Linked DNA regions of Homo sapiens: regions 1, 2, 4 and 5 are each reported to be linked to region 3. Evidence: microRNA targets listed by miRTarBase, many of them from high-throughput screens and not tested one by one. Region 3 holds a microRNA gene; each other region holds the end of a gene's coding sequence. Distances are between the middles of the regions.
What was found. The annotated mature microRNA hsa-miR-5699-3p reads UCCUGUCUUUCCUUGUUGGAGC and lies in region 3 at 3,638-3,659, shown strand. An mRNA with a match to its seed (bases 2 to 7 or 8) in the 3' UTR can be bound and repressed. Matches are read on the target gene's strand: a 7mer-m8 pairs with bases 2 to 8, a 7mer-A1 pairs with bases 2 to 7 and ends in A, and an 8mer does both.

Region 1: miRTarBase lists MBD3 as a target of hsa-miR-5699-3p. Seed matches in the 3' UTR shown: 7mer-m8 at 2,476-2,482, 7mer-m8 at 2,098-2,104, 8mer at 1,621-1,628 and 7mer-m8 at 1,048-1,054.
Region 2: the mRNA of EBNA1BP2 is a reported target of hsa-miR-5699-3p. The part of its 3' UTR that is shown has no 7-base or 8-base seed match.
Region 4: miRTarBase lists JAKMIP3 as a target of hsa-miR-5699-3p. Seed matches in the 3' UTR shown: 8mer at 2,723-2,730 and 7mer-A1 at 2,642-2,648.
Region 5: miRTarBase lists RNF217 as a target of hsa-miR-5699-3p. Seed matches in the 3' UTR shown: 8mer at 1,587-1,594.

What each region holds. Positions count from the first base shown.
Region 1 is chr19:1,572,781-1,578,840 of GRCh38, forward strand. MBD3 (methyl-CpG binding domain protein 3) reads right to left here. Exons shown (of 7, transcript NM_001281453.2): 6 at 5,555-5,758; 7 at 816-5,378. The coding sequence ends at 5,560. Among named protein-coding and RNA genes, the nearest start is that of MEX3D, 7.5 kb to the left of the region's middle.
Region 2 is chr1:43,159,733-43,166,049 of GRCh38, forward strand. It overlaps EBNA1BP2 (EBNA1 binding protein 2), which reads right to left. Exons shown (of 9, transcript NM_006824.3): 8 at 4,911-5,073; 9 at 4,452-4,761. The coding sequence ends at 4,711. Among named protein-coding and RNA genes, the nearest start is that of MIR6733, 8.8 kb to the right of the region's middle.
Region 3 is chr10:639,041-645,357 of GRCh38, reverse strand. It overlaps MIR5699 (microRNA 5699), which reads left to right and starts at 3,580; the gene lies at 3,580-3,669. All of the region lies in intron 1 of DIP2C (disco interacting protein 2 homolog C), which reads left to right. LOC124902361 reads left to right here. Exons shown (of 1, transcript XM_047426106.1): 1 at 1-6,317. RefSeq lists an enhancer at 4,730-5,636.
Region 4 is chr10:132,165,823-132,171,376 of GRCh38, reverse strand. It overlaps JAKMIP3 (Janus kinase and microtubule interacting protein 3), which reads right to left. Exons shown (of 24, transcript NM_001323087.2): 22 at 4,322-4,394; 23 at 2,344-3,424. The coding sequence ends at 4,344. Among named protein-coding and RNA genes, the nearest start is that of JAKMIP3-AS1, 18 kb to the left of the region's middle.
Region 5 is chr6:125,082,422-125,088,655 of GRCh38, reverse strand. It overlaps RNF217 (ring finger protein 217), which reads right to left. Exons shown (of 6, transcript NM_001286398.3): 6 at 1-5,792. The coding sequence ends at 5,719. Among named protein-coding and RNA genes, the nearest start is that of TPD52L1, 68 kb to the left of the region's middle.

The DNA.
Region 1 (6,060 bases), not on the chromosome of region 3:
AGGCTGGAGTGCAGCGGCGTGATCTCAGCTCACTGCAACCTCTTCCTCCCTGGCTCAAGGGATTCTCCTGCCTCAGCCTCACGACTAGCTGGGACTACAGGCACCTACCACCATGCCCAGCTAATTTTCGTGCTTTCTAGTACGTGTTGGCCACACTGGTCTCAAACTCCTGACCTCAAGTGATCTGTCTGCCTAGGCCCTGCAAAGTGCTAAGATTACAGGCGTGTCCCACCTTGCCCAGCCTGTACAAAAAATTTAAAAATTAGCCGGGTCTGATGGCACACACCTATGGTCCCAGCTACTTGGGAGTCTAAAGTGGGAGGATTGCTTGAGCCCGGGAGGCAGAGGTTGCAGTGAGCTGAGATTACGCCACTGCACTCCAGCCTAGGTGACAGAGTGAAATCCTGCTTCAAAACAAAGAAAAAAAAAAAAAAGGCCAGGTGCAGTGGCTCACGCTTGTAATCCCAGCACTTTGAGGGGCCAAGGTGGGGGCAGATCAGTGGATCACCTGAGGTCAGGAGTTCGAGACTAGCCTGGCCAACATGGCAAAACCCCGTCTCTACTAAAAATACAAAAAATTAGCCGGGCGTGGTGGCACATGCCTGTAATCCCAGCTACTTGGGAGGCTGAGACAGAATTGCCTGAACTGGGGAGGCAGAGATTGCAGTGAGCCAAGATCGCACCATTGCATTCCAGCCTGGCGACAAGAGGGAAACCCCATCTCAAAAAACAAAACAAAACAAAACAAAACTCAGAAAGGAAAAGGAAAATGCACAGGGAGAATCCTGTGATGGAGAAGGAAGGCAGGCAGGACAGCAGAGACAGGAGCATTTTATTGCTTGTAAATTACATCTCAAAAAACCCACTTCACACACGTTAACTGGAAATATCTTCAAATGAACGGCCGTGAGCGTGGTTATTTTGGTAACCAGAGAAGGCTAAAAATTAAAACTGTGAAAATTAAAACTGAGCAGGGAAGGCAGTTTTGTGGTCTCATATTATTTGCCCTCAACAAAATTCTTTTGCCCGTGGCCAACATGGTGAAACCCTGTCTCTACTAAAAGTACAAAGATTAGCTGGGTGTGGTGGCGGGCGCCCGTAATCTCAGCTACTCAGCAGGCTGAGGCTGGAGAATCTATTGAACCCGGGAGGAGGAGGTTGCGGTGAGCCAAGTTTGCACCATTGCACTCCAGCCTGGGCAACAAGAGCGAAACTCCATGCCGAAGAAGAAGAAGAAAAAAAAGTACACAATTCTGGTGAGGCACGGTGGCTCATGCCTGTAATCCCAGCACTTTGGGAGGCCGAGGTGGGGGATCACTTGAGGTCAGGAGTTCGTGACCAGCCTGGCTAACATGGTGAAACCCCGTCTCTACTGGGGGTGGTGGCATATGCCTGTAATCTCAGCTACTTGGGAGGCTGAGGAGGGAGAATGGCGTGAACCCAGGAGGCAGAGCTTGCAGTGAGCAGAGATCACACCATTGCACTCCAGCCTGGGTGACAAGAGTGAGACTCCATCTCAAAAAAAAAACTGTGGAACATTATCATTAACTTTTGTGGGTGCCCTTTAGCCATTTCCCCCAGTCCCCATAATCCCCAGTCACTGGCACCCACGTGTCCCCTTCCTGTCTCTGAATCGGCCTGTCCTGGACATTCACACAAATGGGATTGCACGCCGTGTCGGTGTCTGTGTGTCTCTTGCTGAGGGTGGACTCCTCCAGGGGCATCTGCGCCGTGGCCGGTGTCAGAGCCTGGTTCCTGTTCATGGCCGAGTCCTGCTCCATGGTGTGGCCGGGCCGGGCTGTGTTCGTTCATCCCTGGATGGGCACTTGACTTGTTTACACTTTTTGGACCCCTTGAATCTGGAGCGAGTGTGACAGAATCTCACAGGCAGTGCCCAGCCACCCGCTACCAGAAAGCTGAGTCTTGCTCCGGTATGGCCCTGTCCGAAAGAACGTTCCGGAAGCTGGGGGTGTTTTCCATGGGCACCTCCGGGCTCCTGGAGATTTGCTGTGACAGCCATGAGGGACACACACAGGCGAGGGGCATCCCCGGGGATCTTTGCGGTGGCGAGTGTGTGCGGTGGTCAGAAGGGCTGTCCCTGTCTGCCTGGGTCTGGGGGCTGCAGGGACAGCAAGGCACGGGCCCTGGGTGTGGCAGGAGAGGCATGATGCCCCTTAGCTGGTGTTGCTGAGACTCGGGAGCCCTGTGGTCCGTGTGGCTGGGCCGAGGGCTGGGAGGTGCATCCTCGCCACGGGGGTCCTGAGCCTCTCCTCCCTGGTACCCTCTGTGGCGGCAGCGGTGGGGAGCTTGGTCTGAGGGGAGGCGGGGGACACGTGAGGCTCTTGCTGCTGCTGGCAAGTGCCAGAAGGGCTGCCATGGTGGTTCACACCTGTAATCCCGGCAATTTGGGAAGCTGGGGCGGGCGGATCACCTGAGGTTAGGAGTTCCAGACCAGACTGGCCAACATGGTGAAACCCTGTCTCTATTAAAAATACAAAAATTAGCTGGGCGTGGTGGCTACTCGGGAGGCTGAGGCTTGAACCCAGAAGGTGGAGGTTGCAGTGAGCCCAGATCACGCCACTGCACTCCAGCCTGTGCAACAAGAGCGAAAGAAGAGCGAAACTCTTGTCTAAAAAAAAAAAAAGTCCCAGAAGGTCTTGGGGCTGAGACATGGGCGGGGCTGGGGGCAGCCAAGTGGCCTTTGAGGATGGGGCCAGGCACCGCACAGGGCAGGCTGGTCATGAGGCCCCCACGAAAGATCCCAGCATTGGGAGCTCAGGCTTCCCCGCCCCATGCCAGGTCTGGGTTCTGGGGCTGGAGTGTGGAGCCTCGGTGCGCCCAGGGGGTTCAGCCTGAGGGTCTGAGACTTTTCCAGGGCAGGGAATTTGACGAGGGCCTGAGCACTGGGCTGGCCCCTCAGGTGCCCACGCCTACAACTCACTTCTCACCGGGCACGACCTCTAGCAAAGGCCAGTATTGCCTTGGCCTGTGGGGGTCCCCAAGGTTTCAGGGAGAGAGGAAAGGACCCTCAAGCTTCGTCAACAGCGACAGCCCAGGGCCTGGATGGGCTTCCAGTGGGGAGGGCCCTGTGGCAGGGGTAGGGATCATCACATCTCAGACCAAGGCCAGGACATGGCCAGAACCCCGGGATCAGAGGGACTGATCGGGGTCTGTCAGTGACAGGAAGCTGGGCTGCGACAGAGAGGGAGAGACAGCAAGAGACAGAGACAGAGACCGAGGGAGAGAGACAGGAGAGAGAGCAAGAAACAAAGAGGGACAGAGAGGGAGACGGCGCAAGAGAGAGACAAGAGGGAGAGATAGAGACAGGGATAGACAGAGACAGAGAGAGACCAAGGGAGACAGGGACACAGTGGGAGATGGGAAGAGGGAAACAGAGTGTCTCTGAGTGCCGGGCAGATGAGGGGAGGGTGGCCTCCCAGCCTTCAGGTCCAGAAAGCAGCTTCCAGTGGCCATGGCTAGTGAGCTGAAGTCCAGGGTCCCGGGGCACAGCTCCCCTCCCTGCAGCGGCTGTGCAGGACCTGAGGACCTGGGGGGCCCTCCCTGCCAGGCAGCCCCTCCTGCTTCCCTTCCTTTGGAAGGAGCGGTGCTGGGTCTGAGCCCCAGCCCATCTTCCTCACCGGGGCAGCAGGGCCAAGACCCACGATCCCTAGGCTGAGCCAGCGGCACCTCAGGGGGCACGGCCCTTGCCCACAGATGCCCAGGCCGGCCTGGTCTTCTCTGAATACCCCTAAGCCTGACTCTTGGGTTGTGAATGTCCGCGAGGTTGGGGGACCTGCTGGCCCTGTCCCCACACCGCTTTCAGCCTTTCATCACCCAACCAAAGACAGAAGCTCAAACGTGGGCACCAAAGTCTAGCGGACGCACCGAACTCCAGGCTCCAAGCACATCCACCCATGGTGGCTTTATTCAGTCACGTCCCCACGCCCACGGCTCCCTCCACCAGGCAGACAGAGGGGAGGCCACCCCACTGCAAAGGGTCCCAGCCAGTGGGCACCAACCTCAGGAAGACGTGGTCCCCACCTGGAGCTTCCCTCGGCTGCCCTGGCCCTTGAGCCCGTCCTGAGGATTTGTGCTTTGACTCTGACAGGGAGCAGCAGGAAGCTGCCAGCCCACTGCCTCCATGCGGGTCCTTGGAGGGCAGACGGTGGAGCGGCGCTTCCTCAGCTCCCGCGGTCAGGCCCCATCAGGGATGGTCACAGTCCAGCCACAGGGGCGACTCTGCCCATCAGTCCCCCTGGGGCAGCGACCAGATCCTGGCTGGGGCAGCACCGGGACAGGCCCTCTCTATGGGCCTAAGGTCAATGCAGGTGGGGGCTCGCTGGGCCCAGGCCAATGAACCCACCCGTAGGAGCCCTCACTGGGCAGCAGGGCCAGGAGGGCACCAGGGACTGGCCGCAGAGTCCACTCGGGGCAGGCGTCTGTGGCTTGGAACCTGCCCTCGCCAAGGCACTGGGGGGTTAAGGAGCAGATCCCTCAGACGGCCTTGGGCCAGAAGCTCCCTGGAGAGCTGGGCACCTCGAGGAGCGTCTGGGAGCCTCACCCTGTCCCAGTGGCTCCTGGCACCCCTGGGAGCGTCAGCACCACCCCAAAGCTGGGTGCCTGTGTCGCCACTAAACAGAAGGGAAACCGAGGCAGGGGGGCCGGCTGGCAGTGGAGCATTCTGGCAGCGCCGGGCGACCAAGTCCCGACTGGCAGCGGCTGGAGTTTGGTTTTCAGAAGCGAAGGCTGGCGTTGGCACACAGGGAAGGCTGCCCGATGACGTGCCTCGACTGTGTTACATTTACTGAAGGAGAGCGGCCTCCTGGGCATGCCACTCAGGCACGGTGAGGCTCTGTGGCACCACCAGCCGCATGGCAGGGCAGAGAGTGGCGCCGTCCTGCATGCCCCCCACAGCAGACCAGAGTCCCGTCCTCACGCTGCACAGTGGGTGATGTGAGTTTCAAAACTACGCCTCCAGACCGAGAAACCCTCCCAGCTGTCAGCAAGCCGTGGCGCCGAGCTGCCGGGCACCTGCTGGCTGCTCTCCAGTCTCAAGGAGCTGGGACAGCGGGCATGGGGAGGAGCTGGCCTCGAGCCCAAAGGTCGTAGGGAGCCAGGCAGGGCCCAGGAGCACCCGGCACTTCCCGAAGCCGGACTCTGTAGAGGACGAGCGTGGAGGGTCTTTCGGGTGGGGGCAGCCCCAGCTGTGTGCCCCGAGGCCCCGGGAAGTGGGGACGGGCCGAGGAGGGAGCCAGGAGCACGGCCTTCCTCCTGGGTGTCTCCAAGGCTGGGCTTCGCCGCCGAGCCTGGTTCACGTGGGGCCGAGGACCGCGTCTGCAGGCGGCTCCAGCAGGCAGCACGGGCTCTCGGCAGGGCCTCTGGAAAGGACAGGGAGGGCTGGCTTTAGCGACTCCACGGGACGGGGACGCTTGGGCTCTTCTAGGGAGATGGGAAGCTCTTGGGAGGCACCCGTCATCCCAAGCACATCTGTGTTCACCAGGCAGTCCCCACTGCCAGGACCCGACTCCAGGGAGCCCCCGTGGCCCCGCAGCACCTGCCCTAGACGTGCTCCATCTCCGGGTCCGGGTCGGGCTCCTCCTCCTCCTCCTCCTCGTCTTCCTCGTCGTCGTCCTCAGCGCAGGCCTTGTCCAGCGGCGCCTCCCCGTCACGGGCCAGCTCCTCCACGTGCGCCAGCATGTCGGCCATCAGCGCCTCCTCCAGCCGCTTCCGCACCTGCTGCACCAGCTCTTCCTGCTTCCTGGGGACACATGGACCTTGCGTTACACCAAGGTGAGCGGCCAGCAGGACATGGACACAGGATGAACGTGGGGACCTCAGCTGGGAGGGGAGGCCCGAGGGATCCACAGGCACCCCCCCAGGACCAGCCCTGGCCCGTGCCACCCCTCCCTTCACAATCCACGCAGAGAATGACCGGCTGCCGCTGGCCATCGCCAGCGTCCGCCACCCTCCCAGATGGCCCCCCTGCCACCTCTACTGGGACCAAGGGAGGGGCCTGACCCTTCAGTCCCCAGACTTGGCCCTGAGCCTCCCCGGGGCTCA
Region 2 (6,317 bases), not on the chromosome of region 3:
TCCTGGCTAACACGGTGAAACCCCGTCTCTACTAAAAATACAAAAAATTAGCCGGGGGCAGTGGCGGGCACCTGTGGTCCCAGCTACTCGGGAGGCTGAGGCAGGAGAACAGCACGAACCCGGGAGGCGGAGCTTGCAGTGAGCCGAGATCGCTCATTGCACTCCAGCCTGGGCGGCAGAGCGAGACTCCGCCTCAAAAAAAAAAAAAAAAAAAAAAAAAAAGTACCAATCTGGCCGGGCGCGGTGGCTCACGCCTGTAATCCCAACACTTTGGGAGGCCAAGGCGGGCGGATCACAAGGTAGGGAGATCGAAACCATCCTGGCTAACATGGTGAAACCCCGTCACTACTAAAAATACAAAAAATTAGCCAGGCGTGGTGGCGGGTGCCTGTAGTCCCAGCTACTCGGGAGGCTGAGGCAGGAGAATGGTGAAAACCCAGGAGGCGGGGCTTGCAGTGAACCAAGATGGCACCACTGCACTCCAGTCTGGGCAACGGAGCAAGACTCTGTCTCAAAAAAAAAAAAAAAAAAAAAAAAAAGTATGAATCTTTAAGTCTTCGAAACAAAACTAAACAATGAAAAAAAAATTTGTGTGAAAGTATTAAAAACTCTGTTCAATGCGTAACAAAATTAAAATACTAAAATTTAGTAGACTCACTTTAAAACAGTAGAAATATTGAGAATCAAGTGTTTTATTTCTGTATGAAAAACCATGCTTGTCTTCTTTTTTCCCTTCTATAACTTACGATGAAGAACAAGCATTTTTTCCGTGCCTTGGCAAATTGTCTTTACTCCTTTCTAAGTTTGGATTTAGTTTCAACATTTTATCACTTGATCTTCCAATGTCATTAGATAGCTCCAAGAGTCCCTTTAATGTACAGTTTTTTACTAGTGTCACTCTCTGGAGACATCTTCATCCTTTCCATCTCTTTCCTCATTTGTAAGTTTGCCTTCACAAGGTTTCTCTGGCTGTATATCTAGTCTCTAGAAGGGCAACAGCATTCACAGTCCAATATCAGCTATTTCATCTACAATTCCATTTGCATTGCACTCAAATTTTACTTCCAGCCTCACCATTTAAAAAATATTTTTTTTTTCTTTTGAGACAGGTTCTCACTCTATCACCCAGGCTGGTGTACAGTGGCACAAACATAGCTCACTGCAGCCTCAAACTCCCAGGCTCAAGAGATTCTCCCACCTCAGCCTCCTCAGTAGCTGGGACAAGTGCATACCACCAATACCTGGCCAATCTAAAAAAAATTTTACTCTATTTTTTTTTGAGATGGAGTCTTGCTCTGTCGCCCAGGCTGGAGTGCAGTGGCGCGATCTCGGCTCACTGCAAGCTCCGCCTCCTGGGTTCATGCCATTCTCCTGCCTCAGCCTCCCGAGTAGCTGGGACTACAGGCGCCCGCCACCACACCTGGCTAATTTTTTGTATTTTTAGTAGAGACAGGGTTTCACCGTGTTAGCCGGGATGGTCTCGATCTCCTGACCTCGTGATCCGCCCACCTCGGCCTCCCAAAGTGCTGGGATTACAGGCGTGAGTCACCGTGCCCTATCACTTTTTGTTTCTTTGGTGTACATTAATCCTTGGTGGTCAATTCCCTCTCAGGTATCTACTTCTATAAAATGCATGAGGAGTTTATTGCTAAAGACAAAGAGGCAACACAACTACACACTTTGCTGTGTGTGTGTGTGAAATGAATAACTGATGCAGTGACTGATCTTGGGACAGACTTTGAAAGAAGTGATGGTCACTAGTCTTCGTGCATCTGTCATTTATGAAGTGATTTGTGGACTAAAGAGCTAGCAGCGACTGTTTCTACTTTACGCATCTACTCAGTTATTACTTTGGTAACTGAAATGTGAACATTGTTGAGAAACTTATTTAATTACATCATGATAACTGAATTCATGCATATTAGAATCTGTATTGGGGACTCCTAGGTTCCTACTTATTTTTCAATTGATGGGATTGTATTTATTTTAAAGCAATATGAAGGAGGCTGAGTGCAGTGGCTCATACCTGTAGTCCCAGCACTTTGTGAGGCCAAGGCAGGATTGCTTAAGCCCAGAAGTTTGAGACCAGCCTAGGCAATAGAGCAAGACCCTGTCCCTACAATAAATAAATAAATAAATAAATAAATAAATAAATAAATAAATAAAAACACCTAGCCAGGCATAGTGGCATGCACTTGTAGTCCCAGCTACTTGGGAGGCTGAGGCAGGAGGATTGCTTGAGCCAAGGAGTTTGAGGATACAGTGAGCTATGATCACATCACTGTAATCCAGCATGGGCAATAGAGTGAGACCCTGTCTATACAAAAAGAAAAAGAAGGCATAATGCTACCTGCACCTTGATCACCCTTTATTTTGAGGGTTGGAATGATAGAAGTGATGTAAATGAGTTCTACAGAGGATATTTCTAAAACTAAGGAAAGTGAGTCCATATGTAAATCTTTGCTCTGTAATAAAAAAGAGAAAAAAACAAGAAGTAAAAGAGGGGGGACATAGTTTTCAAGAAAGCCTTTAGAGGTATGTTGTTATTAAAAACTTACTTTTGGCTTTATCAATGTGAAATGTTGTTAACCTGTGCTTTCTTTTGTGAAACTCTCAATATTTACTTGCATAATTCAAAGTCTCAAACTGCTTCTGAGCCTGTTACACATTATCCCCATTCAATAATATGGCATGAATTATGAAAGAGGACAGAGTAAATATTTTTGTCTTCTTGATATGACCTGTGTGACCAGTTTTGTTAGTTGAAATTAGTTTACAAAAACTAAATTCTCTTTGTTCTACATTACAATCTTAGTATTATATGAATCCAGAAATATCCTTTTCATGTGCCAATAATGCTACAAGAAAATGTGAAAATAAATTATTCTTTCTGCTAAAGATACTATATAGCTCTCAGGCATTTCTAACTTCTTTAAAAATAAAGTATGATTTCTAAACTGGAATGGAGAGAGAAGGGGCAGGTAAAATGGTTTACCACCCTATCAACACAGAGTAAAGCCCAACAATTAATGTGGCCTGCCTACTCAATGTACCACCTACGCAGAGCTTCCGCTTATGTATGAACAACCAAGGCTTGCCAGATATTAAGGAAAGAAACCCCAGCAAAACAATCCTAATCAAAGGAATATGAGAGGATTATCAGATTATCGGATTATATTAGGATAATGTTCTAAGTGTTTTACATTGATTAACCGAATACTGACAGGAACCCAATGAGGTAGATACATCTACATTATGCTAGAGATGACAAGGCAAATAAAAATTAAATTCCCTACGGTCAAACAGCAAGTAAGCAACACAGCCAGGCCCCAGAATCCACGCTTCTTAGCTTCTACAATACTCTACTGCTCAAACACGGGAAAGAGGAGATCAAAATGCATGGGCTGCAGAAACAGAATGAAGGGAACAGAGGGAAACTTTATCAAAAAAATTAAAACTATAATCATATTCTGAGAGATATAAGATACTGCATCTAGAGGATAAGAGTAAAATGATATGAAAAATGACCAAATAGAGAATAAGAAACTCTTGGGGGATAAATGAAATGAAAGCTAAACTTCATATTCAATAAAATGATTTTAGGCCGGGCATGGTGGCTCACGCCTGTAATCCCAGCACTTTGGGAGGAAGAGGCAGGTGGATCACTTGATGTCAGGAGTTTGAGACCAGCCTGGCCAACGTGGTGAAACCCTGTCTCTACTAAAAATACAAAAATTAGCTGGGTGTGGTGGCGCACGCCTGTAATCCCAGCTACTCAGGAGGCTTAGGCAGAATCACTTGAACCTGGGAAGTGGAGGTTGCAGTGAGCCAAGATTGTATCACTGCACTCCAGCCTGGGCGATGGAGTGAGACTGTGTCTCAAAAAAAAAAAAAAAAAAAAAAAAAGATTTTAAAAAACAAAAATATATCTCCCCCCAAAAGTAGAACTGAAATAAAACTTAAAAACAGTGCCTGCGAAATTCTAAAATTCTAAGGAGGAAATTCCTATCAGCCCAAATTAAAGGCAATTTCAGAAATGCAAGGAGATAAAAAGTTTACCTCTCATCTTCCCTTTCTTAGTAAGATACCAAAAAATGGTACACAGCAAAAGAAGGCATATGCTAAGATGGGAAAACATGGGATTCTGGAAATAATGGTGCCAACTTAAACGGTCTAGAAAAAAGGTGACAGTTGTGTGGCATAACTAGGTTGTAGGAGAAAAATTATAAAGTGGGTAAAATGACAAAGCATCTGGAAAGAACTAAGAATATAGAAGGAAAATTAGGCAAGCAGAAGAATGTAAGGTGAAGGTTAACTGGAGGAAAAACCAAAAGCTGTACCACAAAGAAAATCACGGTGGCTCACACCTGTAAAATATGGGCATTGAGCTTTACAGGGATTGATCGTAATATAACTATTTAGAAGGATGAGACAAAGGAAATGAGAAGGTGTCAGTTAAATCATTATTTATCATAAAATGAAGGCAATTTGAACTCAATGTCTAAATTATCAATAGATAGCAATGGAAAGTAACTTCTCAATCTTTTAGTCTAGACTATTTAACCAAAGGTATGTGTTCCTTTAATAATTTTTCTTTAGTTTATTGAAAGAAATGTTTACAACATGACACCAACAGAAGGGATCAAAGTGTGTCGTGAAATTGCGAGTCTTCATTCCTTTTTCTTGGTTCTTTGTATTCAAAGATGCTATTTAGTGTGTTCTGTTCTTCATCTTCTCTCTTGTTCGTTTTCCAGGTCTCTTCTACAGAAAAAGACATACCACATCTGGTCACATAGCAGCTTGCCTTCTGCCCCAGGGTGAGGACGAACAGAACTGAAGGGAGAGGGCAGGGTTGGGAGTGGGAGGGGAGGCTGAGCCTGCTCCTCACCCGGGCACCTGGGCTCACTTACATTTGACCCTTTCTTGCCAGGCCTCTTGAGGCCTCTGCCATGAGCTGTCTTGGCCCGGAAGCTAGATACATCATCATAGCTCTCCCGAGTGTTCCACTTTGAGCCTTTCTTCTTTCCACCAAAACCAAACTTCTGGTTTTTATACCGTCGTTTAGCACTGGGCCTGGAAAAGAATGGTCCTAGACATCACTACAGCACTGTAAAGCCTGATGAACCTGATGGCCCAGCAATGCTCTCAGTTTCCTTTCTATAAGCAAAGCCCCTTAGGCACGTCTGTAACCCAGAATCTCATCCTTGGCCCCACAATCCTATGCTACAGCCTCTCTAGACAAACTCATCTAGCTCACCTATTTACAGTTTTGACCACCAGGGCAGGAAAATAAAGCAAGAAGCAGGGAAGGCTCTACATATATTACATGGCTTCCTGCTGTCTTTAGAAAGCTTTCTATTTTAACCAAATCTTATTAAATCACCCTCAGTTGTGTCTATTCCTCTCAAGGGTAAATACATGCAGTTAACATCCAAATGTAATATGTTACATTTGTAACATTCAAATGTAATGTAATGAATACGTTCAAATGTAAACATTCAAATGTAATTATAGGCATTCAAATAACATTCAAATGGAATAACATTCAAATGTAAAACTGGTCATCCAATAGGAATCTTGAATTCAGCATCTCCAAATTCACATCATCTCCTGGACTGGCTCTGCTTCCTGTACATATGCCCTCACTTGAGGCTGGCGCTGCTCCCACCAACCCAGACACACAGGCTAAACATGTGGGAGTCAGCCTTGGTTCTTCTCTCACTCTTTATACCCAATTCAATTACTGAGTCCTGCTCATTTCACCTCTTAAATGTTTCTTCAATCCTTATCTCGACTTTTGCAATAGTACCCTTGTCAATTTCCCAGCTTCCCTCAAGTCTGTCACTTATACAAAATCCACTGTGATCTTTTTAAAAACATGAATATAACCTGCTCATTACTGTTAGTACAACCTACAACCTAGTCTCTCCACTGCCTTCTGACAAAGCCCAAGCTCCTCAACAAGGCAAACCCACAGCCCAGGTCCCCCCAAACACATTGCACCCCTCCTTGCTTTGCACTGTATTCCCAGTGACACCAAGGGCTTACTGTTCCTCACAAAACCCTGAGGTTTCACATCTCGATGGCTTTGCTCGTTCAAGCTCTTACTTCTTCCCAAACCCAGCTTCTCTTCTATTCTCGTGGTTAATTCCTACTCATGCTTCAAGCAATGCTCAAGTCGAACGCTCCTCCAGAAATCCACCCCAGACCCTGTCAGGTATTTATAAAAGCTGACTCAGTACTAATCCCCAAATGCCTCTATCATAGCACTTACTATCTTACATGGAAATTATCATTTCCCCTAGGCCTGGTATCCA
Region 3 (6,317 bases):
ATTTCTAAATCACCTTACACCACACCCCCTGCAGCCGTGTGCCACTTTGATAAGGGGGTGTACTCTGATAGACTTTTCAAGACAAGACTCTGCTGGATCTGAGGCTGTTTTGGCTGCTTCTGGAGACTCAGCTCTGGAACGTTCATGCCAGCTCTCCCTCAAGACCCCACGGATGCCATGTCCTCATCTTTTGGAATCCAGTGTTGTAGAGGAGAAGTCTGAGGCCAGTTTGATTTTTGCTTCATGGTAGGAAACTGATGTTTTCAGGCTTTTCCCCTTTATTTCCATGATGAAGATGATGTCCCACCTCATCCGGAGGGGTCTTTCTTGTCTTGTCGGGAACATCCAGCTTTTAGGTGCCTCTTCAGGTCCTCAGTCCCTTTCTCACCTTCCTCACAGTCCTCCCCATCTCATCCATCTTCACTGTAATTCGGTTATTTTTTCATTTTTATGCTCACTTTCCCATGCGACTTTTGTTCTTGTTTCACAGATGCTGGTGCTAAATTGTATGTCTGAGGCCCAGGGGCCGTGTTTCATTCTGTCTGCCTCTGCATGTACTTTTGAGAAGTAGGGGCAGGGTTGCCCCCTAGATGCTGTTTCAGCTGGACCTGCCCAGGCTCCCTGAAGTGGGGGCATTGGGCAGAGCCCATGTGGCTCTATGGTGGGCCGTGTTGCTGAACCCTACGTCTGAGATTTGGGGGCCGTGTTTCATTCTGTCTGCCTCTGTGTGTACTTTTGAGAAGTGGGGGTGGGGGTTGCCCCCGGACGTTGTTTCAGCTGCACCTGCCCAGACTCCCTGAAGTGGGGGCGTCAGGCAGAACCCGTGTGGCTCTACGGCGGGCCGTGTTGCTGACAGAGCAAGAAGCCGCGCTCCCAGGACGCGCCTGCAGCTGTGGGCAAGTCTGGGATTGTGATGGGATCGTTTCCTTCTCTAAAATACGTCTCAACTATTATCCAGAGGGTTGGCTGTAGGCTTTCAACAGCTTCACTCTTCTTAGTGACCAGGAGACAATTCACTAAACAGAGTTGCTGTCAGGGTTTAATTAGTCAGGAGTTTCTGCCAGAGGCTGGCGGGACAGCTCCCTCTGCAAGCCTCCTGCAGCCTCCCCATCCCCACTCTTGGGCCCGGCCACCTGCCTTGGTCTGCAGAAGGTGCACATTCTCTGTTCTCCTGAGGGGCTCCTGGACTTCAGGACAGCCTTGGCAAGCTGATGTGTAACTCCCAGTCTCTTCTCTTTTTTAGTAAGGAATACGCTCACGGAATCCTGACCTTCTAGATTGTTTCATCTTTTTAAAACAGCCGCAGCTTCCTAAGCCACCTTGTGTCTGAGTGTGAATCACTTATTATTTTTCACTGCAGAATGAACAGAACTGGAATCATAGGATTTAGAGGGTGATAAAAAGACAGAGGTTAGGATATTCTATTTTCTCACCTCTTCCATACACTTTTTCCTTAAATACACCCTCATACGTCTGTGAAGTTCTTCCCAATTCTGTAACTTCACTCCACCCTCAGGTGGAACATTTGTGAACAGTAACAAGTATTGATGTGTGCAACTCTGCAACCCAGCTGGAATTAATGCTTTTTATTTATCAATGGATGGTCATTGGATGGCCAGAGGGATTCCCTGTGCATTGTGGGGGCCCAGTGCCTGCTTGTGAGTGACATGGACATAACGAGGGTTAGGGAATCTCAGCCTCTGTGATTCGAGTAGTGACATCAAGGCAGGTGGATGACTCTTTGAGCTTGGCATGCTCCTGGGTGGCACAGCACAGGTGACGTGGACTGGGGCAAGGGCTTGTTCCACGGGCTTCTGTGTTGTTTTTTGTTTTTGTTTTTTTTTGAGATGGAGTCTCACTCTGTCACCCAGGCTGGAGTGCAGTGGTGCGATCTCAGTTCACTGCAGGCTCCGCCTCCCGGGTTCGTGCCATTCTCCTGCCTCAGCCTCCCCAGTAGCTGGGACTATAGGTACCCGCCACCACGCCTGGCTAATTTTTTTGTATTTTTAGTAGAGACGGGGTTTTACCGTGTTAGCCAGGATGGTCTCGATCTCTGACATCATGATCCACCCGCCTTGGCCTCCCAAAGTGCTGGGATTACAGGCCTGAGCCACCGTGCCCGGCCTGTTTTTTTTTTTTTGAGACGGAGTCTCACTCTGTTGCCCAGGCTGGAGTGCAGTGGCGCGATCTTGGGTCACTGCAACCTCCACTCACTGCAATCTCTGCCTCCCGGTTCAAGCCGTTGTCCTGCCTCAGCCCCCAAGTAGCTGGGATTACAGACATGTGCCACCATGCCTGGCTGATTTTTGTATTTTTAGTAGAGACGGGATTTTGCCATGTTGGTCTGGCTGGTCTTAAACTGTTGGCCTCAAGTGATCTGCCCACCTTGGCCTCCCAAAGTGCTGAGATTACAGGTGTGGGCCACCGTGCCCGGCCCTGTGTTTGATTCTTAAATCTTCTTTTTCTTTTTAATCTTTCTCTTTCTGGAGGACCACTCAGTGGATATGAGGAAGAGTTCACAGATGTCCATATTACATTCCTTTCTTAAATTAGCCTCCCTTGAACACTGCTGTAGGGTACAGACGCATGAAGGGCTGAAAGGGTGGTTGTGTCCCAGTAAGTGTGAGAGTGGAGCTGGTCTGTGAGACCCCGGTGCCGGTGAGGGCACCCGTGTGCGATGGCCTGGGACGGGGGTGTGCGGAGCCCTGACCGTGGCACACGCCCTTCAGCTTTGATGTTTCAGGCCCTTGCTCTGGTCATCAGTGAGCAGAAGGTCTAACAGCAGTGATATTTATCACTAGTTGTGTTGGCCAATGTGTTAGGAGGGTGAAGCTGTTTGACTTAAGCTGCTTGATTGGTTTGCATTTAAATAGACACCTGGTGGCCTGGTGCCTGGACACTTGCTCTGTGACCTGCCCCGTGTGGCTCCTCCCTCTGGCATGCATTAGATGAGATGGGCGTGTTTAGGGCGATGTGGCCCTAGACTGGAATGCATTCGAAGTGCAAACCCTGCCCCACCCCAGACCTGCCCCACCCCAGTGTGACGTTAGGAGGCGGAGGCCCAGCATCCTTCACCTGCCCTCCAGGTGGGTCTGAGGATGCTGAGGTTTCAGAGCACTGCTTTGCTAGCACACCAGCGAGTCCTGCTTAAAGAGGCCAGGATCTGAAAGGGCAGGTTACCAAATTGTGTAGCAGAAAAATAGAAATGTTTCCTTAGAAGGGGTGTAGGAAGGAAAATAATTTCCTTCATCATATCTGGAAAAGATTTCAAATTAGTAGGCACTATTTGGAATTATTAGTGGTCTCCTGTATTTCTTTCTTTCTTTCCTTTTTTTGATACAGGGTCTCGCCCTGTTGCCCAGGCTGGAGTGCAGTGGTGCAATCTTGGCTCCCTGCAACCTCTGCCTCCTGGGCTCAGGTGATCCTCCCACCTCAGCCCCCTGAGTAGCTGGGACTACAGGCGCGCTACCACACCTGGCTCATTTTTGTATTTTTTTTTGTAGAGATGGGGTCTTGCTATGTTGCCCAGGCTGGTCTCGAATTCCAGCATTTCTTCTGCCTCAGCCCCCCAAAATGCTTCTGTACCCCTGCCCCAACAAGGAAGGACAAGAGGTGTGAGCCACACACACGCCTGGCCTCCTGTCTTTCCTTGTTGGAGCAGGGATGTAGAAGCACTTGCCGCAGCCGACTTGAGTACATCTGACTTTACTTAGCTTTCCTCATGGGTAGCCTGGCAGTGCTGTGCACCAGTGCTGCTGGCCAGCTGTTTTTTCAATGTACTGGCAGAAAATCAAGCTGACACCCGGGTTCCTTTCTCCCTGGGTACTGACCAGGTGGGAGAGGAGGGGCGTTGTGTGAGTATCATCTTCATGAGGGCTGGTGGGGGAACATCAGCTTTAAGGTGCCTGGGATCTAAGGCATGGAACCCAGCAGTGCAGAGGAACGTAGGGGATGTAGCCTCGGGAGCAGAGATGTGCGGGCCGGTGCCCTCGTTCCTGGCGGGGTCTGAGTGCAGGAATAGGTTGGTGACCCAGCCGAGGTCACAAGACCTGCCTGGATGCATGGCTGGCGTCCGTGCTGGCCCCAAAACTGCCCATTTGGGGATTCCCCTCAGTCACAGACTCACCTAGGGGTCCGGAGAGCGTCCCCACTATGACCTCAAAGAACGAGGTGTTGCCTTGAGATCTTCCAAGGTGAGGGTAGGATTTTTTTTTTTTTGCAATTAGCAATAATTTGTTGTGAATGATCTTGGACCTATTTTCCACTTCTTTGTATAGGAAGAGAGACAGAATAAAAAGTCTCAATGTGCCAGATGCCATGTAATGAAGCCATGGGGTTAACGTTGTTGATTATTACGTAGCATCACGTTAATTGGAACATATTCACACGTGTCCACAGCGTGTGCGTGTGCCCAGTCCGATGAGCACGTTGGGTTAGGGTCGCTGCTGGTTCATGCAGCCCCTCTGGGTGGGGCTGTCTCTGTGGCTTGGCCAACACCCTTGCTGCTGCCACTGTTGGAGTCTCCAGCCTTGACCGGCCTTGCTGCCCCCAGGTTCTCGGAGCCTGCGCACCCTCTTCCCGGCGCCCACCCTCTTCCCGGCGCCCACCCTCTTCCCGGCGCCCACCCTCTTCCCCGCGCGCAGCCTCTTCCCCGCGCGCAGCCTCTTCCCCGCGCGCACCCTCATCCCCGCGCGCACCCTCTTCCCCGCGCGCACCCTCATCCCCGCGCGCAGCTTCTTCCCCGCGCGCACCCTCGTCCCGGCACGCACCCTCGTCCCCCGTCGCGTCTACCCGGGGTCTGTCGTGTGTTTCTACTCTGGCCATGCCCGCCTCTTGCTGTGAGCTAAGTTTATTGAGGTGCAGTAAGAAACCAACAGAGGGGAGCAGAGTCCGAGGCTGTCAGGGCGCAAGGGAGCCTTGGGCATCTCTTCCCCAGCTCTGGCGACCCACCCTTCGGGTTGAAGTGCAGGGGAGAGGTGAGTTCTAAAGGTAAGGCTGCGGTGATTTCCTGAGCCTTAATTATCTAACACTTGGCCATCTGCCGTGTGACCCCATCGAAGGGCACCTCTGGGGACAAAGCAAAGCCCTTGGTGGCCGTGGGCGGGGCGGCCGTGCCTGTCTGTGTGTCCTGCACCGGGAGCCCCGCCAGCCGTGGGGACGTTCAGGCACTTGCCACCTGTGGGAGGTGTGTGTTAGCCGCGTGGTAGGTGCGGATGCGTGGAGGGACAGGCACAGGCCCACAGGCGTGGCGGGTATGGGAGATTTAGCCGCGTGGAGATGCGTGGAGGGACATGCACAGGCCCACATGCGTGGCGGGTGTGGGAGATTTAGCCGCGTGGGGATGCGTGGAGGGACATGCACAGGCCCACAGGCGTGGCGGGTGTGGGAGAAAGCGCGCAGAGTGCCCAGCAGATGCCGCGTGGTCAGCGGAAGCCTTGGATACAGGCCGGGCGGGGGAGGGACATCTGGAAATACGCTTTAAGCAGCATCAATGGATAATGCTGTGATTTTCCTTCTTTTCGTGGTCCAAAACACGTTCTAGTGATGTCGCTGATTTGTGTGTACCTGGGACAAGGAACTAAATATATTAGGGCCTTGATGTAATCTGTAAAACAGGCACAATATGCCTATTTCAAAGAGGCAGTGGACATGAAAGACTGCTCTAAACTATTCAGTGCAATGAGAATGCTTCGTTGTCATTAGCAAAGTAAAATGCCTCCAAGGCGAGCTTGCCATGCGTTTAATGACCTTGGACGTGAGCTTCCTAAACCTGCCAGAAAGTGCTTCCAGCGTGGCTTCATGCAGTGGCTTCAGTGGAGAATGTGCATATGCGGCTGATACTGAGAGCCGGGCAGCACCCTGACAGCCTGACACATCCCCATGTGTGGACCGTGAGCCGGGCAGCACCCTCCCAACCTGACGCGTCCCCATGTGTGGACCGTGAGCCGGACAGCACTCTCCCGACCTGACACATCCCCATGTGTGGACCGTGAGCCGGGCAGCACCCTCCCGACCTGACACATCCCCACGTGTGGACCGTGAGCCGGGCAGCACCCTCCCGACCTGACGCGTCCCCACGTGTGGACCGTGAGCCGGGCAGCACCCCCCGACCTGACGCGTCCCCATGTGTGGACCGTGAGCCGGGCAGCACCCTGATGGCCTGACGCGTCCACATGTGTGGACCGGGAGCCGGGCAGCACCCTCCCGACCTGACGCGTCCCCATGTGTGGACTGTGAGCCGGGCAGCATCCTCCCGACCTGACGGGTCCCCTTGTGCCCATTGTGGGACCTCCATCATGCAGGCAGGTGACATGCAT
Region 4 (5,554 bases), 130 Mb from region 3:
CTCTGCTTCCCATGGGTGTGGGGTTGGTGGTCCAGGGCTGGGAGTGGGGACTAGGGCACAAAAGCCCCTTGCTGGCTGCAAGTTTAGGTAGTAGCTCTTTCCTGACACCCTTCAAACTCACGCTGGAGACTGCACACTCGGAGCAGACGCGGTGGGAGAGGATCCCGAGAGGATGACAGCCGCCTCGCTTCAGAGGAGCCCTGTGAGCTGGCGGCCTCGGCCCAAAGTCCCCGCTCCGTAACCTCCCCCAAGGGAGCCTGCAAAGGCATCGCTCTCCTCTCCTCACTTGACTGAACATGCTCAAGAAGGCATTGCTTCTGGTGCTCCAGCGGGGACAGGTTTCTGCTCACAGGTTTCCCCACCCCTGGGTTAGCTGCAGGGTTGGGTGACAGCCCTCCACGAGCATCTGGGGCTGACAGCTCTGCCTGGTGCAACGTGACGCTTGGGGCCAATTGACTCACACGTTTTCCTTTCTGATCTAGCATTCGAGGCTCACTCCCTGATCCCGGGAGGCTGACGGGACTGGCTGAGAAGTCTTCTGTGCGGAGCTGTACAGACGCCTTGTCCACAATGAGCCTGTGGCTTGTCAGCCCCCGAGCGGAGCGGCGCCCACCCACCTCTGTCCCCGCCATGCCGACAGGCCTGAGACACAGTCTGCACGTTGGCGGCCGGCTGCCCCTCCCTGATGACGGTGTGGCCTGTCTACCCTGACCGCCCCCATGGACACACGCTGGGAGCAGGAGAAGCTCCGAGTCACCTCCAGGTCCAGTACCCAGGAAATGGCTCCATCCAGGGATGCCGTCCATGGATGTCCAAGTCCCAGATGTCACCGAGGGCAGCTGTGGGGGGCCTTGCTCCCCAGGCCCCCATCTCCTGACCCGGCGTCCCCTCTGTGACCTGTTGTGGGAACCTGCTCGGGGCTTAGCATGGCCTGGATGGTCCACCTGCCCCTGCTGTGAGGCCTGGCCCGCAGGGGGTGGGAGTGAGGCAGCCGGGAAGCCTCCGCGGGGAGGTTCGTATGGCGGGGAGGTGCGTATGTCCACGCCGTGTGTGTTGTTGTGCTGTGGGGCGTTCCCTGTCCCCAGCCGCCCTCGGGGGACCCTGGAGGCTGTGGAGCTCCCGACCTCTGGCTGCGCTGTCCTTGCCGCACAGTTAGAGATGTTATGCTTGGAGCTCCAGCTCTTGCTGTGGGACCAGAAGTCTCTGGGGACTCGGCAGCCATGTCCTGAGGGATGGTGGGCCTGCGGCGCCCTCGTGTGCCAAGCAGCGGGCGTCCTTGGACAGGGCTGGGACTGCTGGTCTCCCGCTCCTTCTAGAATGAACCTCTGCAGCGAACCTTCTGGCCTGAGGCTGTGCCTGGGCGCCCTTGGTGGATGCAGGAGCCAGATGCTGCTGGGTACCCAGGTCCCGACCCCGCGAGGACGCCGCCTCGTCCACCACGCACCTGAAGAACGCGCCCCAGGGGACCTGCAAGACGGAGCCGCCGCCCCCTTCGCACCTCCTCCTCGCTGCGGACCCCTCCTGAGTCAAGGGTGAAGATGGAGCTGCCGCCCTCTCCTGAGTCCAGGGTGGTGGTCGCACCTCCTCCTCCCCCTCCCATTTTCTACGCAGGGAGCATCTCCCGGGAACAACAGTGCCCGTGGCCCACAGCCGCTGCCCACTGCAGGAGACACAGGTGGCTCTCAGACACGGTGTGGGTCGGAGGTGGGGGAGATGGAGCGCTCCCTGGGCGGCCCCCCATGGGGCTGCCACTGCCTCCCCAAGAACCGGCTCACCCTGCCCCAGGGCCCCGCTGAGTCCCACAGACACAACGGATCCACAAACCCTCCCATAGGGAACCCCGCTGGCGAGGAAAGCTCCACGGTGGAGCATGCCCAGAGTCCTGACCTCCCTCCCTCCCTGCTGGGAGCACCCAGAGTCGCCTCCCCAGAGCGGACACCTCAGGTGCCGGGGCCGAGTGTGGGGCGGCGTCCACGTTCAAGTGCACGGGAGCAGCGGAGGGAGGCGCACTCGGAGAGCGGCCTCATTGCACCTACGGGGTTTCTCCCTTTTCCCGCAAGCCTCCTCCTGCAAGTGGGAGGAGGACCAGCTCTGCCAGACGCCAGGTCCCCGTGGAGCACCATGTCTGCAGACCCTGCCCCAGCGACAGCTCACGCCACGCTCCACACCAGCCCCCAGGCCCTGTCCCGTCAGTGGCGGGAGAGGTGATCTTGACGGGTCAGCAGTGGACGGGGTGGCAGCGTCACGCATGTGCAGACGGGGACACAGAGGTGTGAAGAAGCTGGAGCTCACCTCGCAGGGAGGGTGCAAAGGCCCTCCCCGCGGACAGATGGCAGCCCTTACCTGTCAGCCTCTTGGTCCACGGCTCGTGCAGCGTCCCCACACAGGGCGGGAGGGGAAAGGCCGTCCCCGCGGTTCCCTTCTTGCGCCCGCCATCCCCACCTGGGCTGCTCCTTGTGTGCAAAGGCTTGGGGTGAGGCTTCGGTGCCCGCCGGGGTCCATGGCCTGCAGGGCTGGCCCGTGCAGGGGCTTCCAGGCTGGGTGGCTCTGGGTGCCCAGGGCCTCTGTGACTTCTGGAGATTCACTATGGAGGCAGCCTCTGGCATCCGTGTTCCAGCCAGCTCCGCCCCCTCGTCCCACCTCCTGTCACCACGCTCCCCACGCCTTCCTTGGCTCAGTCCCGCGGTGCTCCCAGCTGGCGGCTTGGGCGGGATCTTGGCCTTCCTGTCTCAGGTTGAGTAGGGAGGCAGAGGGTTGATGGCACCACGCGGCCCGCGGCGGCCACGGCTCTTGTCTGTCCCCACAGAGATGATGATGAACGAGGGTGGATGTGGGGTCTGTTGGCCAGCGGGTGCTCAGGACCCCAGCAACATATTGCAGCATCGGAGGGGCCCCTGAGGCGTCGGGGAGCCCTCCCAGGACCATCCCAGGGAGCCTCCAGGTTCCCCTGAATGAAGGTCACCGTCCAGCTTTCATCTTGTCATCAGGCCAAGCCTCTGTTGTTTCTGAAAATCTTCCTCCAGACACCAGTGGCAGCTACTGTGAGAACCAAGAGAGAGGAGGGGACCCGCGGCTGGTGCTTCTGCACAGAAGCAGTTCTCACCCCTGCTTGGCAGGGAATGCTACACATCCCTGGAAATGGGATGGGGGCTGCCGTCCGGGAGAAGGGACCCAGGGTCCAGCAGCCAAGGCCAGGCCCGTCCCGGAGAAGCCCCCGAGAAGTCGGCAGAGCCAGTTCTAGTTCTGGCACATCCCACGTGGACGGCAGCTCCACGCCCCACACACTGCCCCTTCTCACTCTTCCTCCACGGGACGGGCGTGCAGAGACCAAATCTCCCTGGGTCTTCAGGATGGAGACGCGACGTCCCATTTTGTCCCTGCTTTCTGGTCCCACTGGAGGAAAAGGGTCCGATTCAATGTGGGGCTGGAAGAAATGAAACGTAGAGTGCAGAGTCAGCGAGGCTCCGCTTGGCTGGAGTGAGGGGCGAGGGCCGAGGGGCGAGGGGCGAGGGCCGAGGGGTGAGGGGCGAGGGGCGAGGGCCGAGGGGTGAGGGCCGAGGGGTGAGGGGTGAGGACCGAAGGGCTGCGTGGAGAGGATGTCAGGGAGACTCCACTTGGCTGGAGTGAGGGGTAAGGGGTGAGGGATGAGGGGCTTCATGGAGAGGGAGAGCCCTGCTCCCAGGGGAAGCTCCTCTCGGGACCTGCTGAAGGGTGCAGACTCGAGGACCGAGGCGAACAATGATGTGACGTCCTACTTGCCCCTCCTCCAGTTTGGAAGGAGGCAGCCATCTATGCTGGCGGGTGCCATGGTAGCAGCAGCCATGACCTGTAGACTCCAGCTATCCTGGCCTAAGCTGCCCGGCCTGGCAGGGAGACCAAGCCCTCCTGGCTGAATCTCCAGCACCGCCCGAGCTTGTGCTCAGCACCACCCAGAAAAGAACAAGGACGAATCACAGAACCACCGTGTCTGCCCCCAGGGCCTGCTGCCGAGTGCCACCAAAGCAGAAAGACCCCCTAGAGAGGGTCCTGCATGTTTCTGCTACACTGGGGTGGTGGTGGGAACCCTGCTCTCCTTCCCGTTCAGGAAAGGTGAGCACCTTGCGGCCTCTACAGTGGAAGACTCCGGGTCCTGACCCCCAGGGAGGGACTTCCAGTGTTGAAGGACGCGGGTGGCTTTCTAACAACCCTTTTGGGGATGCTGGGTCATCGCCTTCCAGTTGATCGAATGGCAGGTGGGCAACTCCCTGGCAGGGCAGGGGCAGAGGAGTCTTCCGGGAAGCAGAGCGGGACCCCTGCTGGGCCCTGCCAACGAAATACTCACCACGTCAGGGTGCCAAGACGGACTATGACCAGAGAATGAAAGCTAAGGAGAAAAATAAGAACAAAAATAGAAACTGAAACGGAAAGGGGAGGATGGAGAAACGGAAGGAAAGAAAGAGAAAAAAGAGTTTGTAGTGCTTCTGGCAAGAAATACACGCGATTACAGACTGAAGACAGAGCTGTTGGCAGGGAGGAGAGGACGCTATTAAGGACTGTGCCGAGGGAGGGATGCTGCCCAAATCCCCGGGTCTGAGGGGTGGTGCCGCCACCCCTAGGAACGCACTGGGGACTCTGCACCGGGCAGATGCGGGTGGTGGGCGCTGGTCAGGGGCCCCACACCCAGCGTGTCCCCAGCACCACAAGGCCAGCCTCCCGGGGACTGGGTCTCCTCCTCCCTGAAGTGAAACCCATCGCTGAGACCTGCTGCAGGAATTTTTGGCAAGAGCACCAATGGGGTAATAATAATGGTGAACGTTGTATTGAAAGACATTCCAAGTGCCCAGCAAACAAAAGCAGGCCTGTGAGAATATTGTGGTCTCAGTCCCACCGTAAGCAGCAAAGTACAACCAGCACCCTGAGCAGACAAAGCGCACACAGTCTCACTCTGGGCTGGGGGTCGGGAGCCAGGCCCATCTGGACACGAGAGAAAATCGGGCAGTGGGGCATCGCTTGGGAATGAAGAGCTATTTAGCTAGATTTAAGAAATAACACCTGATCTATTTTTTTCTTTGGAGACAGGATCTCAGTCGGTCACCCAGTCTGGAGTGCAGTGACGTAATCATGGCTCACTGCAGCCTCAACCTCCCAGGCTCAGGTGATCCTCCCACCTCGGCCCCCTGAGTAACGGAGATTATAGGCACGTGCCACCATGTCCAGCTATGTTTTAAAATTTTTTTCTAGAGACAGGGTCTCACTATGTTGCCCAGGCTGGTCTTGAAATCCTGGGCTCAAGCGATCCTCCCATCTAGGCCTCCTAAAGTACTGGAATTACAGGCATGAGCCACCACGCCTAGCCCTCACATTTTTCTAGTATTTAATACAAACAAATATCCTTAGGTTAAGATGCAAAATGAAACAGACATTTGGTTTGGGGAGAGGCTTTGCCCTCTGAGGCTCCAGCCCCCAGAACACTGTGTCCCCTCCCGGCAAGGCCGGGTGCCCCTGCGTGCTAGTGGGTGCTTCCCCACGTGGCCTGGAGTCCACCGGGGCCTCAAAGGCTGTGCCTTGAGTAACT
Region 5 (6,234 bases), not on the chromosome of region 3:
CATACTGTTATTCTAAAATAGTCACTTCTCTAGCCAAAAAGATATATATAGTTTGTAACATGCATAATTACATTCTTTTAAAACTGGCAATATGTATAGGGATTTTGTAAGGTATGTGATATGGTAAAGCTTCAGCTAATGCTCCAAAGAAGCAATGAGAATAGTCTCACTACTGTGACTCTGTTTCTTGGATTTGGATGAAGTCAACCAAAGTTACAGCCTTACAATTAGTAACAATAGAAGTCCCACACAAAGTTTGGCTATGAAATGTGTATTTGTTCTATTTTCAAAATCAGAGTTTCAAAGGAGTCCCACTGTAATTCTTTCTTAAAGATTTGTATCATTGGTTTGCATCCAAAAGGTAACATTTCACAATCTTAAAATACTCCCCAAATTTTGGAACTCTGATTTTGTTCTGATAATACTTTAATGCTTCTATAAAATTATTTGTTTTATCAAATTAATAATTGTGGCTATAAAAATTAACAATGTGATTTTGAAGACAGGCATAGTAGGCACGTGCTTGTAATCCCAGCTACTCCAGAGGCAGAGGAGGGAGGATCGCTTGAGCCCAAGAGTTTGAGACCAGCCTGGGCAACATTGAGAGAACCTCTGTCTCAAAAAAAAAAAAAAAAAAAAAAGAATTTTGTAACTTATTTTCCATATTAGGGGGACAGTATCATAATTAAATTATAACTTTAAATACAAAATATGCTTAAACTTGGGATTGGTGTGCAAAACTGGTAGTTTTGATTGATCATATTTTTAGTGAGGGAGATTTCTTTTATAGAATTCATGAATTATGAAATTGCAGTTAAAACTTTCAGTATAAATTAATTTAATATTTTAAACAAACATTCCAATTAGGTATATTAGGTAACACTTATTAAGTATTATTTGCTAGGTTTGATAACCATTCCAAGATTACTACAATTTCAGAAATTGCTACTTTTCTTCAGGTATGTTTTATTTGTTTTAAATCTTTAGCTTCTGATTCCTCCCAAATTTAAAGAGATGACACATATTTGCTAACACTGTTATCCTACTGTCTCCACTGAAATATATGTATCAGTTGCTTTAACTTTGTATACTGTCTCCATTGAAATGTATGCATTGATTGCTTTGTCATTATTTAAATGGCACAAATATTTTAAAGTGCATTACAAAATTTTAAGGCTATATTTATAATAGATATTAACACAAAACAATAAAGCAGACCATGGGAAAGATCACTCTCAATAGTTGGGAGAGATTTCAGCCACAAATATGGGAGAATAAAAATATAATCCAATGTGAAGACTCACATTAAGGCTTATGTGCAGGTTGCTTATAAAATTAAAATCTAAAAACGTTTTTTGGCATACATTTTCTTATTTTTGTAGTAAAGTATGCCAATTAAGGTTATAGAGGCCACTAACTTTTTTGTAATTCTAATGTAACAGCCAGTATAAAAGTGTAATGTTAAAAACAATTTCATTTAACAAGGGAGAAGCTGGACTGATGTCTTGGCAGATGTGCCCTCATTTGACAAAGGTCAGGAAGGAATTCTAATGTTTCCCACATACCAGAGTGAGTTTTTAGGCCCCTCCTGTCTCTCCTCTTCTCCTTCAGTGAAGAGGAATAGTTAGAATAGCAGAGGTATGGAGAAAAATGAGGTTGAAGAGGGGCATCAGGGACTGGAAATGATTACAGTGGTTCATAGGTATTTTAGGAGAACAGTTGGTCATATACTTGGGTGGTAAGGTTGAAAGATAAAGGCTCAATTGGAGCCTTGGGACTCAAGAGATAGTCAGAGTCACAGAACAAGGTATTTTCTGACAAGCACCACTGAATCTTGATACCACAGCAGAGAAAGTACAATTAAAGATATCATGTTGTAACCTGACTTGTGTTTAATTATCTTTGTTTTCTTGTCTGTTCTACTCTTAGGACACAATAGCACCTATGAGAAAATCAAGGTGGTGGCAACAAGATGTTGCTTGTACCAAAAGGTTTGACCCCTCTCTTCTTACTCCACATATATAAATTATTCCACGATTTATAATTATCCCACCAAATCACTAAATCGTACATAATCTAATGTATTTTTCTGGGAATTGCTGTGGGCATTTATAATTGCCAACATATTCTTTCCTACTTTTCACAATGGCATAATTAAGTTCCTCTGTCAAGCAACATACACAAAAGTGGATAGTGTTACTAAAAATGCGAAAAGTATCACCAATTTGGCTTGGGTATTTGATTTAAATCCCTCAAGTTTTAAAATGAGGCAATCCAAAAGTCAATTCATCTCTCTCACATTATCTGACACACATCTCCTCAAATTTTATTTTTATTGAAAAAAAATTTCCTATTGTAAGTTTTGGCAAGGTATTTATTTGGCTAATCAGGCAGAAAGGAAATTACCCTTCAAAAGACGATTTTCTTTAAAAATTATGCACTCCTGTACAATCTTTCTTTTTATCCAAAAAAGGGTCTCATATTATCTCTATGACCTCATCTCCTGAAATTACATTAAAATGTTTATTACAAAGATCTTGTAAAAAACAAATGTACAACCTTATGGATATGTTCATGCAAGGTGACAAAAATATATGCAAAAGGGTCTTCACTCTTGCTTTCTTTGTAATAGAGAAGTGAAAATAATCTTGTAGTCCATTCAACAGGGGACTAATTCAATAAGTTAAAGTATACTCCTACAATGGATTATGCAGTAATTTATAAAAGAATGAGGTAAATCTATTTAAACGCTTATGGAAAGGTATCTATTAATATATAATAAAATGACAAAGAGTCACAGCACAGTAAGAATATTTTTCTATTTGTATAAAATGAATACACACACAGACACATACACAAACACACTTATTTGTATATTTGTAGAAAGTGTCTGGAAGGACACATACCAAACCATTAACAGTGGTTACCCCTAGAAAATAAGAGGTGGGGTAAGTAGAGAAAGTTGTATTTTATAAATTCTGTATAGTTCAATTTTTTAAAGTAGTATATATTAAATTTACAATAAAAGCATATAAAATGACAAGCCTTGGATAGAAAGATATTTATTTTATGTGCACGCTTCTTTTTAAAGTAGTTTTTAGAATTTCTCCCAAAAGTTACTACTACTGTTTTACCTTCAAAGTTGGCACTGACATATAAATAATACTTTTTATTTTCTTCTCTCTTTTTAAGATCTTGATGAAACTTAGTAAAAAATTCACAAATAATCATTTTAAGTTACCAGCAGGGAAAGGCCTAATAGATATGACCCTTTAAAGAGAAAAATGTGTATGTTAATTTAAAAATATCTACTCAATAGAAAAATGAAAAACCTGTGCAACACAGTGCACACTATTTCAAGCACTGATGAAATAGCCATCACTGAAAACAGACACCACTTTGTAACAGGAATATTGGAAAGTTTTCCAAATAATATAAAAATATGTCCAAAAGATAAGTTATTTAAAGAAATAAAAATCCCTGAGTAGGCCAAAGACAACAGATACATAACCCAGAAAACAGATTATCCAAGACAAAAGAGTATGTTATTCAGCCCGTTGGTATATATGTATATGGCATATGTGTTCATATGCAGTTATGGGAATATTTCATATATATCATACATATGACATATATACATCATACATATACAGATCAGCTAGGTTTAGAGTTCATCATATTCACATATTGCCAAACTAATGCCTAAGTTCAGGAAAGATGAATTTACGAAACCTTACTCTTATGACAGGTTAGAAATTCTCCTTCTTTCAGTCTTAAATACTATTACACCTAAGATAGGCACTCAATAAATATCTGTTAAATGGATGGATGGGTGAATGAAAAGATAAATTTGTGAAAACAGAGCATCACTATTTCTTGTATTATATTATGCTTTAGAAATATGCTATTCCCAAACCATAAATGTCACACACTCCTCTAACTGGAAATAGACAACTAATCCAGAAGCTGTAGCACAGTTATTCTGTGTTATTCAGAAAGAATGAAAGCATGCTGGATTGTTATTCACGCAAGTCAACTTCACTTTTTATGTCAAACAAAAAATAAAATATTCTTACACTCTGGAGCCCAACAAAAATAAACTACTCATGTTAATGCATGTTTTATCATATCATCTATTTCAAATCAGACAAGGTTGCTGACAAATAAATGTACATCTAAGACAGATGACTAATTTTAAGAATTTGGAGACAATTTAAAGCTTTAGGCTTTTTAGGGGTCTTTTTTTTTCCTGTTTGCTGATGAACTTTTGTGATGAAAGCAAAGGCATATCATAGTCTAGTTACTTGTCAATTTCTTATTTTTAAAGCTTTTGTAGGTTGAGAAAAACTTCCTGAAAATATTTCCTTCACTTTTTTGTTTCCTTTCCCAAAAGCAGCTGATATTGGACAAACTCAAGAACATAAAAAGTTTTCAAACTCCTCCATAAGAAGGTGTCCCCAAAAATATTATGTTTGAGCAGTTAAATGTAAGAAAAAATCCTTCAAAACTAGTATTTGTTTTTATGAAAAACCTTGAAAACAAATAAAAACAGAGAGGAGGAGGCAAGAGATAACAAGGTTAGGATATTAAATGATGTAAGACCTTGACCTAAAGCAGAATTATCTATAATTACAAGTTGGTTAAAAAATTAGCAGAATAGGAATTTTTTAAAGGCTTAAGCAGTTGTCTACAGCAAACTTGTTTTTGGGATTAAATAATCCCAATGTGAAGGATCTATCTATAGAGTGAAGCATGTTTTCCAAAATGTAAGAATTTTAAAAAGACTGAATATTTGTGTCTTGAGAATTTCCTAAAAGCAGCCAGTTTTGTCAGTTTACAAAGCTTAATACTCCTTGGGGTGACGTTGCACAAATTTCTGTGTTTGTGTGACAAAAAGAAAGAGCAAGAAATAGAAAAGTTCAGTATCGAAATGGCCTGTTGTCTACATTGACTTTAATTTAATACATTGCTAAATTATGTCCACAAAGGAGCCATCATCTTTCAATAGGTCTATGAAAATGTGGAAAAATAGTGTAGCGGCATGGAACTGGGTAAGTACAAGGTTACTGGGCCTAGTTTTAATACATATTTATATACACACACATTCACGCCCCTACGCATATACACTTCAGTAACTTAATATTCTTCTCATTAATTTAGTTTCACTCATTCCCTTTTGGACATTGAGATTTTTTGCAATTATAACATTTGAAAGATAAAAGAATTATACTGCTGGGGCCACAGATTATAATAGGTGCATTCAGTGAACTCTTATCTTCTGAAAAGTGGCCTTGCTTGTTGGTACAGATAGGACTTCAGCTATTAACACCAAGTCTCACAAGATGGCCTGGAAGGAGGTGCAGAGTTCAAAGACAGTCCAAGCAATTCTCAGAAGAGGCGTGCTCAGAATTCTTAGGATAACTGGTTCTTAAAATATCTTCTTCCAAGAACCACAAAGGTCAGAGTTATGATATAGATGTTTATAGTTTATGAAAGTGACCATTTTTTAAAAGCAGCAGCAATTTGTTTAGGGAAAGGACAGGATACCATGTTGGGAGTGCACCATAGCTAGAGGCATTGTGGCCCACGGAGAATCACTGGGAGATGAGATGGTAGAAGGTTCCTCTCAGTGTTTTTCAAGATGTGACTCACAGATGGGTGTACCCTTTGGTATCGCTCCTACTCCAACCAGCTTAGCTGGATGAAATCATCTGCATGTTACCAGTGCATACCTGTCCGTGATCGTTTTCTCTGTTTTTTACAAAGGCAATAGATAGGAAATACAAATAAACCTAGGGATAAGAAAAAATTAAAGTTAGTTAGGATGAGAGGCATTTAGGTTTTCCTATTTTAAAATGTCTATGTTTATTTATTTGCAGTGTACGAACATACAAAGAAGAAGACATCTATGCTATGAAATGTATTTACTTCTTCAATATTTCATTCTTTAATATTTCCCTTTAGCTTTTCTCCCCTTTAGCACCCTCAGTGATACCAGTTTAATAATAATGATTTCTATCCAAATATCAAAACTTTGGTTTAAATCTTCTTTATTGTCCACAGTCATATCATTTGCACACTATGATACTCACACTTGTTTCAGGCAGTATAGCATATCACTTAACAACACAGGCTGTGGAGCCAAATGTTGGGTTTGATTCCTGGTTCTACCACTTATGAGGTTCCAGTAAGTCTTAATTTCCTCAACTGTATAATACAGATAATAATATCTAT